Linked DNA regions of Homo sapiens. The protein of the gene in region 3 purifies or fractionates together with the protein of the main gene of each other region. This does not show direct contact. Each region holds a gene or a part of one and is shown on either strand. Other genes may lie near its edges. The genes, in order: MIB1, DNAJC13 and MAP10.

Region 1 (3,653 bases), on a different chromosome or scaffold from region 3:
ATTGCTTGAGACCAGAAGTTTGAGACCAACCTGGGCATTTCTACAAAAAATTAGCCAGGCATGGCAGCTCACACCTGTAGTCCCAGCTACTCGGGAGGCTGAGGTGGGCCCTGAAGGTTGAGACTGCAATGAGCCATGATCACGCCACTGAATTCCAGCCTGGGCAACAGAGCAAGACCCTGCCTCAAAAAAAAAAAAAAAAAAAAAAAAAGAATTCCTAACCCAAGTTCAATCCAACCATCTACCATCTACCTTCTACTCCTGTATCTGGCGGCACTAAAAATCTGTAGTGTTCAACCTGAAACGGGCTTCTAACATGATTGGAACACCCTTCTGCAGGTCCCCAAGTCCTTATCACTCTTCTCAATTACTCTTTCTCTACCCACCACTCTCAACAGATGAACTTGTCTCCCATTTCAGACAAAAAACGTCAGCAGGTATAAATCACCTCTCCTTACAGATTAACACCCCCCCAATTCTTCCCTCATCCTCCAATCCTGCCTCCCACTTACAAGGACATACTCTAGATCCCAACAGTTCCAAAACAGCTGCACTTCAAAAACCTTAATTTCTAATAATTATCTAGCTGAACAAAATCTATTCTTTCAGTTCTTCTCAAGCCCTCATTCCCACTACTACTGTTCTTTATTTCTTCTCTGAGATCTATCCAATCCAGCAACCAATTCCTGGATGCTGTAAATTATCTAAACTACAAGCAGCTTATGATTCTAACCACTGCCCTACTTTTTAAAAAATCATTATTGAGTTTCCAATGGAAACAAATTATGTTTTACATATTCAAATAGTATTTCAGGGAACACTTTTATTTAAAAATAATATGTTGTTTCAAGCCTATTCGGTTAAGGAACCTAAAAGTTGGCAAATTAGATTCAGGAGCTACAAAATTACTAAGTATAGAAACTTTAATCAAACAGGTGCACAAAAGACAAGTTGCTTAGTAACCAAACTAAGCAGAAAATGGACACAGACTACATTTTCTATATATTTGTGGTTTAATTTATCTGGTTATAAAACTGTAGCTGGGGATAATCATTTCTTAGGCAATCATTGCTTCAAAAATTAGATCCTACTGTAAATCAACTCTAAAATCCTATACATTTTCCAAAACAGAAATCTCCGAAGATTACACTAACGACTATTCAAAGTCCCTAAGCTACAATAAAAGCTACAATTAAAATAATTTAAATAGTTATGAAGTAACTATTATGAAATATAGCCTATTACACTTCTTTAAGCTGTTGAGCTCACTGTCATGATCAATAAAGTTAAATCCATTCATAAGCTGATATTTTTACAAAGAAGTCCTCATTCTCCCTGCCCAATCAAAACCCAATCTATTGGCATTTTCCCTAAAAAAAAACAACTTTTTAAAAAAGAAATAGCTGCCAATTTTGTAACATCTTACGCCTTTGGTATCATTTACTATGACATATGAGAACGGTAACAAAGGAATGCTTACCATAGAACTTAATGTTTCCCTTTAATAGGATCCTAGCAATACCTGCAGGATGTGTTTCTTTAAAGGTTTTACCTGGAGACTGGGATGACAGCCAAAGTCCAATAAAGTCTTCACAACTTGAAGATGACCTTTATTGACAGCAATATGAAGTGGTGTCTGTCGGCGCTTGTTTCGAGCATTCAAATCAGCACTACCTCGATGTAGTACTTCTATAACAGCGCCTTCATCTCCAAAAGCTGCATGGTGAACTGCTCTATCACCATCTTTATCCTAATCATTAGTATTGAAATGTGAATTAGTGAATATTTTAGAAAGAAAAAAACCTTGAAGCTATAATAATATACCAAGAAGCAGATTAATTTGAGAAAAGGCAATGTAGGAAACAACAAAATAACTAGAACTTGACCAGGTGCAGTGGCTCATGCCTGTAATCCCAGCACTTTGGGAGGACAAGGCAGAAGGATCACTTGAGGCCAAGTAAACTGTAAATGTGAGTAAGATTTCCAACAATACCAATCTGGGCAACATAGCAAGATCCTGTCTTGTAGAGAGAGCCAGGCATGGTGGCACCCACCTGTAGTCCCAGCTACTTGGGAGGCTGACACAGGAGGATTGCTTGAGCCAAGGAGTTTCAAGTTACAGTGAGCTATGATCGCACCACTGCACTCTGACCGGGGCAACAGAGTGAGACCCTGTCTCTATAAAAAAATTTTTTAAAACCTAGAAACTGACTTGAACAGTGACTAACTCCCAAAGATAAATGATAAACTTAGATCATTTTATATATATGTATTTATTTATTTATATATATACATTTATATATAATTTTATATATATATATATATATATATATATATATATATATATATATATAAAACCAACAGCTTGAACTTTCAGCATTCCTCATTTATCAGCCATGATGGTAAGCCAATTTTTTTTGACATTTAAAAATTTTTACAAAGACCATTTTTGTTGTTGTTGTTGTTGTTGTTTTTAAAGAATCAGGGTCCTAGGCCAGGCGCAGTGGCTCACACCTGTAATCCCAGCACTTTGGGAGGCCAAGGCGGGCGGATCACCTGAAGTTAGGAGTTCAAGACCAGCCTGGCCAACACGGAGAAAACCCGTCTCTACTAAAATTACAAACATTAGCCAGACATGGTGGCACATGCCTGTAATCCCAGCTACCCGGGAGGCTGAGGGAGGAGAACTGCTTGAATCCGGGAGGCAGAGGTTGCAGTGAGCTGAGATCGGGCCACTGCACTCCAAGCCTGAGCGACAGAGCAAGACTGCCTCTCAATAAAAAAAGAATCAGGGTCCTGTTCTGTCACCCAGGCTGGAATGCAGTGGCAGTCATAGCTCACTGCAGCCTTTAACTCCTGGCCTTAATAAATTCTCCAACTTCAGCCTCACAAAATGCTGGGATCATAGGTGTGAGCCACCGTGCACGTCCTACAAAGATGACACAAAAAGTAAACTAAGATGAGTTGTGTGATTGAAAAAAAAAAAAAGAATGCCAAACAATGTGATCTCAACTGGCTTTAATGGGGAGCAATTTATCAACACATTAAAACTGGTTAAGTGATGAGCATACATTTTTCTGTATATTCGAGAACAGAAAAAAAATTAAATACACCATTAAAAGATAAAAACGAAGCATAAACTACCAAAATTCCATATATCAAAAATTCCAAAACTATTTCAGAAGAATCAAATAGATTTGCCTCACCTCCTGTAACAGGCATATTTCTGAAGAAATGAGAAGGCAGGAAAGACCAAATTGCTTAAATTTTTTAAAACTAAAAGAAGGTACTTTATAAAGGGGAAAAACTGCCTGCACTGCGCCATGAAGGTAGTATACATAGCTTATACCAAAAAGTATGAAAAGAAGTCTCACTGCCTTGCCAGAAGCAGATGGAAAAGGGTAGTAGGTATAAGCGTATTGCATTTATTCCAATACTGCATTGCAAATTTTAACACCCACCAAGACCATGTGTCTGTCCCTGATCCTGGTACTCTAAGACTTCCTCCATCCAAAGCAGTGGTTTCCGATTCCCAATACCACTGTGCCAGCCCCTGGTGGACTCCCTAGTTTTGCAAGGGGTCTGACAATCCATATGGCACCCAGGATTATCTGAACTACTTTCAAAGAAAGCACAGATAAACACTGTTATGA
Region 2 (3,653 bases), on a different chromosome or scaffold from region 3:
TGGGCCTTAAGTCCTTCTCTACAAAATAGATATAACAGTAATAACTTCTAAAGTTCATTGGAAGACTGAATAATATATGAAAAATTCATAGAATAGTACCTGAAACACAGAAAAAAATTAATCATTATTTATTAAACAGCTTGACAAGGCCTGTTAAGGATAAAAATTAAAATTAAACATGAATATTATCCTCAGGAAGCTGACAGATTGAGAAAAATACATCATGTTTAGAAATAGCAATAATTCAAAGAAGAAATTGCTAAGAAAGACAAGTGTAATATTTATGAAGGGTAATCTCACTTCAGGGAGGGATACATCACTACCACCTTCAGGAATAAGAAAGCTCCATTTATTTTTAAAATTTTATTTTAATTGTTGTGGGTACATAGTAGGTGTGTATATTTGGTAAGCTTCATTTAAAAGCTGACTTGAGCTCTTAATGAATAAGCAGGGAAAGAATTCTGAGCAGGGAGAATACATGAAATATTAAAAAATATATACATTGGTCTCCATCCTTGGCTCCTGACATAGAGCACCTAAAACCCTTGCAGACAGGGGCACTAGCAGAATCTTTTGTTGCAACAGTCTTTTACCCTGGTTCCTGACACAGAGCTCCTAAGAACTTTGCAATTTCCTGATAGGGGAGCCTGACACAAAGCTCTCTACCATTAGAATTTCCTGGGTAATAGGAACATCTTTTGTTCGAATAAAGCAACTCTCCATATCATTGTTAAGTTCTAGTTATCTCACTACTTGTTTGGAACAGTAAATAAAATTAATTTGCTTTTGGGAATGCAAGGTTTTACAGAAGTATTTACTTATGTTTATGTACGACTAAGCTTGCCTAAAACACTTTATATAAGGAAAAGTCCCAGGTACTACACACAAAACTGAGATAATCAGAAACTTCAAAACTGTACTAAACAATTGTTTCTCCCTCTGTACAAGCTGCCACTAAGTTAGATCTTTACTGCGCAAACAGCTTTCAGGTGTGCTGCTTCTTTAGCCCTGTGACTACCCTAGCTCAGCAACTCATTTCTTACGTGACAATTTGGTCTACCTGCCTCTAATTTTACTTCTATTCTCCACATACTACCAGTGTGGGTTTTTAAAAACTCAAACCTGATCACATTACTGCTCTCTTGCTAAAAAAAATCCTTCAGGTGTTCCTTACAAAAAGATAAAAATCTAGCTCCTCCCTCCTGATACAGAAGGTTTTTTATTACTGTCTGCATACATCTCTAGCTGCAACTCCTAATTACCCCCCATCCATACCTTATAACCCAACCATATTTAATTATTTGTTGCTTTCCAAACATGCCTTTTTATATGCTATTCCCCACCCAGGAAGGCCTTTCCAGAGCTAGAAAATTCCTGCCTGTCCTTCAAGATTCAGATCAAATGTAACATCTTCCAGAAAGACTGGGTGAGAATCTTTCATCTTCCCCTCATCACCAAACAAAAATAAAGTGCTGCTTTTCAAGATCCTATGGCCCCTACTACCTTACCTTGTACAGATATGCCTACCTTACCAGACTGTCAACAAAGTGAGGAAGAAAAGAACTTCTGTCTTAAGATCTTTGAATTTCTGGCACACAGCACATTGCCTGGTATTTAGGATATGCTAAACAAAGGTTTGAGTAACTATGAGAACAATTTATGAAACAGAAACAAGAACTTATTGGTACAATGAAAATCTGGGACTGTGGAAATCAAAACCACCAGTCAACTTAAGAAAAACCAGTTTCCTTAAGAAAACTACTACTTACACACATAAGGGCACAAAGCATATCAACTGCTGCATGGATTATTCCGTTGTTGCTTCTTTTGAGTGCTTTTACTACCTTCACCCCTAGACGCTCGCGAAACCTTTTGGAACAAAAAACAAGCATATACTAGCAATACCAGAACATTTTAAATTGTTATATTATTGAAATAGATCATATTAACTTTCCATTGCACTACTGGAACAATGACGTATTTTAAATTCCACCTCTGAAATTTATCAGTCTTCATAATAGTTTTTTCTTTGAGAGGGAAAATATTTTTTAGGGTTAACTAAAACTAAAAGGCATGTAATTTCCCATTCAAATTCAAGAGTCAGTTATATTACTGGTGAGTATGGGACCAATATTCCGCTTCTGCTGCCCTCACCTTCCTTTTTCATTTCTCATGAATAAAGTACCATATCACCCTATAAAAGGTATCTGGTTTAGTCAAGGAAAAGGAGGTGAATCGTTCATTATTTGCCATTTTGAGTAGTTCAAATTCTCTAAGAGAAGTTAAGTTTCAGAAGACAACTTACTTTGGAAGCTGAGTGAAAGCCAGGAAACCAGCTTTGGATGCCACAAGCCTCCTCACAGCCTGGAACTGACTCTCAAGTTCCGCATTTGAAGCAACGACATCCCCTTCTTGGGACAGTAATGCTGTTATGGCATTATTGATCAGTTTTTCTTTGTTTTCTGAGAAGAGACCCTAGGTGAAGAAAGAGTATTTCAAAAAAGTTTCCATACCAAAAGTTAGTAACAATGAACAATTATGATAAAACTTAGCTTACATCTTGTGTTACTGCATGTAGGACTCCACTGTATGAAATATTAGCATTGAACCTGAATACAGCATCTGCAAAGTTGCCATCTGTAAAGAGATTAAGAGGTTCAAAAAGAAGATACGAATTCCTAATTCTTAAATTAAGTAGATGAGTGGAAATGTAATTACATTTAAATCAATACTTACTTGGAGGCGTAGCTAAGAACCTGAGGTGAAGGCTCTCTACTTCCTCATCAACAGGCATGCTGAGTAACCCCCATCGCTGACCTTTATGGGTTGGTGTCATTTTTACACAAACATCTCTATTACCAGAGGCTCTTACTCCATCCAGCAAACTTGCTAATAAGGAATCTCTAAGTAAGATTAAAAGTAAAAAAAGGTTTTAGCATTGATGATTAAGGGGAATTTTGATCTAGCATGAAGCATAGGCCCTTTAGCAGGTAATCTGCTCAGGGACACACTACAGTTACAATGGGAAACACAAACAGTGGGGCTTTAGGAAGAGCTCTAATACTAGCTCTTCACCGTGCTGCTACATGACCTTGTACAAGTTACTTAAACACTAATTTTAATTTCTCTTTCTCTCCCTTTAAAATTATTTTTAACAGCTTTACTCGGTTCTAATTGACAAATCACAAGTCATCCAATTAAAACGTACAGTTTGATAATTTTTAATAAATTTATACAACTGTATAATCATCATCAGTTCTGATATATTTTCATCACTCCAAAAAATTTCCTTGTGCCCATTTGCAAAAGAACACTCCCCAGCCCCAGGAAACCACTGATCTATCTCTATAGTTTTGCTTTTTAAAGAAACTTCATAAAAACAGAATTATAGAATATGTAGTCTTAGGTGTCTTGCTTATTTTACTTATCATACATAGGCTTTTGAGATTCATCCAAGTTGTTGCATGTATTAGGTCAGTCCTTTTTTATTGCTGAGTAGTATTCCATTGTATGAACAGGCAACATTTTGTCTGTTTATTCACTGGCTGATCTAGATATGGATTGCTTCTGTTTTTGGCTATGAGTAATGATATTACGAACATTCATGTGCAAGTCTCTCTGTGGGCATCTTTTCATCTCTCTTGGATAGATAC
Region 3 (3,753 bases):
TTCATAGCAACTATTTTTACCTGTTCTCTTGTCACTTATATCAGCCATAAGAATGTCATTATCTGTGGTTTTGACCTGTCTAATATCTATTTCCTTATCTACAATTCTGTCAACAACAGCATCCTGTTGGAAAACACATGGACTTTGGATTTTCATTTCCACATTTCCTCCCAGAATATTTGTAGGGGTAAGCCTTTCTGGAATAATGGAATTTGCAGGACTCACAACTTCTTCCAATGAAACATTATTGATTCTATTTTTACTACAATCAACTGTCTTTTTTTCAGTTGCATATTTCAGTTTAGTTTCTTTACTTGTGCTGGGCTCATCAAAAACTCCACTGATTTGTCTTGAGGTATCACTATTTTCAGTGAAAGATGCATCTGAATCTAAATACTTATCTTCAGGCAGTTGTGGCTTCTGACTTTGTTCTGCAGAGCTTAATAGTTTAACTTTGGATGACGGAATTCTGAATTTTGTACCCAACATTTGTGATTGTCTTTTTCTATATAGTTCTCTTTTTTCATGTACCACCAACATATCAGGATTTGTCAGCTTTAAACGTAGTCTTAGTGTATTTGTTAAGCCATAAAGTAGCCTCCCTTTTGGAACTCTTTTATGGAGGGCACCACTGCTCTTTTCAGAATATTTATCTTCCTTATAGTTTTCAATTTGGTTCTTTTTATACTGAAGACTCACTGACTTTTCACATCCCCCCACAGAACGCTTATCCTTCTTGGCTTCAGACCGGCATGTGGATTTGGCAGAAGATTCGGGTGACTTCTTATCCTCAGTCCTATATAACCAGGCTAGGTGAGGATGTATATGAGCAGGACTTGTCACAGGTTGGTCATATAACAAGGACAACTCAACTAACAAAGCATTTAACAAAGGCAACTGCCTTATTGTATTAATTCGATTTTGTTCAGTTTGACATGTTTGATTAGTTGCTCCTATATTCTGAATATGTGGAGGATTTACAAGCATTGGAGGATGTTCGTGTGCTGCAGAACTTGGATGCTTTAGACAACTCCTGTGTGCTGGGGGATTTACACGCTTTTTTTCAGGAGAAGCATCATCCATTTCCTCAGGTGCATTCATTTGAGGCTCAATGGTGATTTTAGCCTGTGCAGGGGGCGGTTTTTCTTGGGTCAAGTTAGTGTAATACAAAGGAGGAGGGCAAAATATATTGGTCTCCATGTCCAATTCTGTGACTTCCTCATTTAGGGAGCTAACATTTCTCCCATTGCCAGCACCTGAACATGTAACAACAGAATTGGTTTTGCCATTCTCCACAGAACCCACATTATCACATTCGGCCTTACTTTTAACCATTTCCTTCAAATCCTTCTGTGCCTCTGGGATTTCTAACTCCCCCAGCGGCTTATCAGCCTCTTTTGGGCTTGGCTGTGAGGCTGGCTGCTGCAGCTGCTGTCTTTCCTGCTGGGTTTGGGGACTGACCTCCGCTCCTCCTCCTGTGCGGGTGAAGGTGAGGGGCCGCTCAAGTTGGCTCAGCAGGCGGCTTCCCAGGTCAGTCAGGCGGTAGGCCAGTGCAATGTCCCCAGTCCGCTCGCCCACTCGATTATGCAGGGGGAAACGTCCCCGGTGACGGTGGGAGCATCCGGAGGCGGCCGGCCCCACGACCCTGTGCGCTGCGGTGGCCAGCGAAATGTCGCAGGCCCCCAGGAGCTGTGGGGTGGGCGTCGGGCGCCCAGGGGGCAGCTGCAGCAGCAAGGTGGCAAGCGGGGTCCGCAGGAGCCGGCAGTGCAGGGTAGCAGGCTGCAGGCGGAAGAGGCAGGACTTGCCGCGACCGAAGCGGATGACACCGGGCCACGGTTCGGCGGCGGGAGCGCCGGGGCCGTCAGGAGGGTAAACCAACAGCGTGGGGAAGTCCAGCAGGCGGAAGGCCACGGCGGGGCACAGACCGCGCGGCGACGAGGCCTCCCCCTGCTCCTTTTCCTCCTCTTCCTCCTCCTGCTCCACTGCGGCAGCGGGGGACGGCAGCAGCCGGGCTTCCAAACGCACCCAGTCCACCAGCAGCTCCAGCGAGAAGAGCCGCTCGGACAGCGAGGCCGCCATTGCTGTTGCCCCAGGAAACGCCGCCGCGGGCTCCGCAAACGAGAAGCTGAAGCCCCGGGGTCTCACGAGAAACCGGAGCAAAAGGCATCGCTGCCTGCTATCTCGCGAGATTTGCGGAAGCGCTCCAGCGGGTCTCGGGCGGTGTCTGCTTTGGGGGTTTTGCTGCTCAATGTGTTTGGCCCCTTTGTATGCATACTTGTGAGCCGTTTTTTGCCACCAACCTTGTATTAAGACAATTGATGATAATGCTGAGGATATAAGTGGTAAAAGACAGTGAGTTTTTTGGGTAATGGTTTTATCACTGCAGATCTTATGTAACTTGGGGGTCAGATCAATATACCTGAGGAATATTGAAAGAAAATCAGGACTCTCCTTCCTTTCCCATGCTAAACAGAGCCAGTTAGTTAACTGTCCACAGTGGGCCATCTCTGTGTCTGCTGTTCTACCCAAAAGATGGTGACACTGCTGGGATGGCCAGGGAGCCCCTGCCTCATCAATTACAGTAGTACTGAGACAGACACACCACACACACACGGAGTGTGAATACACTGGCAAAAACTCTCCTTGGCTGAACTTTGGTCAGGCTCATCTAAGCCTTCTTTCCGACTAGGCCTTGACCTTGGCTTCCAATCCTGTGGACCCTGGATCACCGAGTTGTAGCAAAGGTCTCGCTACGGCTGTTGAGAGAGAACCCCCAACCCTTCATACCTGATTACCGTCGATACCTGATCAAATTCTTCATTTTCTATCATTGGTATCTGACCACCCTGGCCTGGCTTCAGCAAGAATCCTATTAGGCCTGCTTAATCAGAACCCTCCCACCCGTGATGTTCCCTATCAGTAAGTTTCCATCCACTTGACCTGACGCCCCCTTGGCTTTAAATCCCCACTTGTCCATGCTGTAATTGGAATTGAGCCCAGCTCTGTATTGAGGTCTCTTTTCTCTTATTGCAGTAGTTCCTGACTACAGTGTTTTTGCCACTTCAACTACTGTCTGGCCCTGTTTTTTATTTGACAACATTTCCAGCTAAGCAATCATGATGCATGAGAGTAATGTTAATGATTCCATCAATAAAACAAATGTGTGTACATAAATATACACACATCTACAGAGACACACAGAACTTGCTGCTCTATCCAGATATTTTAAGAAACATACTCCTAACCTCAATGAGCTAGCCAGCTAGGAATCCAAGGCCAGTTTTTGGAGAGCCTTGAATGCCATGGTAAAGAATTTGGACTATATTCTGTCCAAATTTTTTTGATTGAATAAGTACATCATAGCAATATTTGGAAATGTATCATGGGGAGGAATACAAAGGATGGATTCTACTAATTAGAAATTGGATTCAGAGCAATCTATTAGAAGACTACTGCAGTGGTCTAAGAGGCAGATAATTATGACCTGCACATGGTCAGGACTAGTGGAAATTAAAAAGAGGTGGCAGAAGAGGCATTTGTGATGGAGGAATTTTAAAATTTGGTGAATGGGAAAGAAAAGTCATGGGTGAAAAACTTCTGCTACTGAAGGTGAAAATATTGAGGAGGCACAGATTTGACGGAAAAAAATACTTTGAGTTTTGAGATATGTAAAGCTTGAGGTACCTGCTGCTGGGCATTATATATGTACCGCTTTATTCAGCTTTATAAATTATAGTTAAATTATATTGCTTC

What was found.
Region 1: the proteins of MAP10 (region 3) and MIB1 purify together in Homo sapiens (affinity purification with mass spectrometry; one large-scale study listed by BioGRID and IntAct). This does not show direct contact.
Region 2: the proteins of MAP10 (region 3) and DNAJC13 purify together in Homo sapiens (affinity purification with mass spectrometry; one large-scale study listed by BioGRID and IntAct). This does not show direct contact.

The regions. Positions count from the first base shown.
Region 1 is NC_000018.10:21,813,713-21,817,365, reverse strand, and holds part of MIB1 (E3 ubiquitin-protein ligase MIB1), read right to left. Parts: exon of another isoform or gene 3,471-3,653; coding exon of another isoform or gene 3,462-3,470; intron 1,751-3,461; coding exon 1,553-1,750; intron 1-1,552. UniProt on the Homo sapiens protein: E3 ubiquitin-protein ligase that mediates ubiquitination of Delta receptors, which act as ligands of Notch proteins.
Region 2 is NC_000003.12:132,455,485-132,459,137, reverse strand, and holds part of DNAJC13 (dnaJ homolog subfamily C member 13), read right to left. Parts: intron 2,904-3,653; coding exon 2,737-2,903; intron 2,638-2,736; coding exon 2,558-2,637; intron 2,476-2,557; coding exon 2,306-2,475; intron 1,870-2,305; coding exon 1,770-1,869; intron 1-1,769.
Region 3 is NC_000001.11:232,803,776-232,807,528, reverse strand, and holds the start of MAP10 (microtubule-associated protein 10), read right to left. Parts: upstream 2,114-3,753; 5' UTR 2,080-2,113; coding exon 1-2,079. UniProt on the Homo sapiens protein: Microtubule-associated protein (MAP) that plays a role in the regulation of cell division; promotes microtubule stability and participates in the organization of the spindle midzone and normal progress of cytokinesis.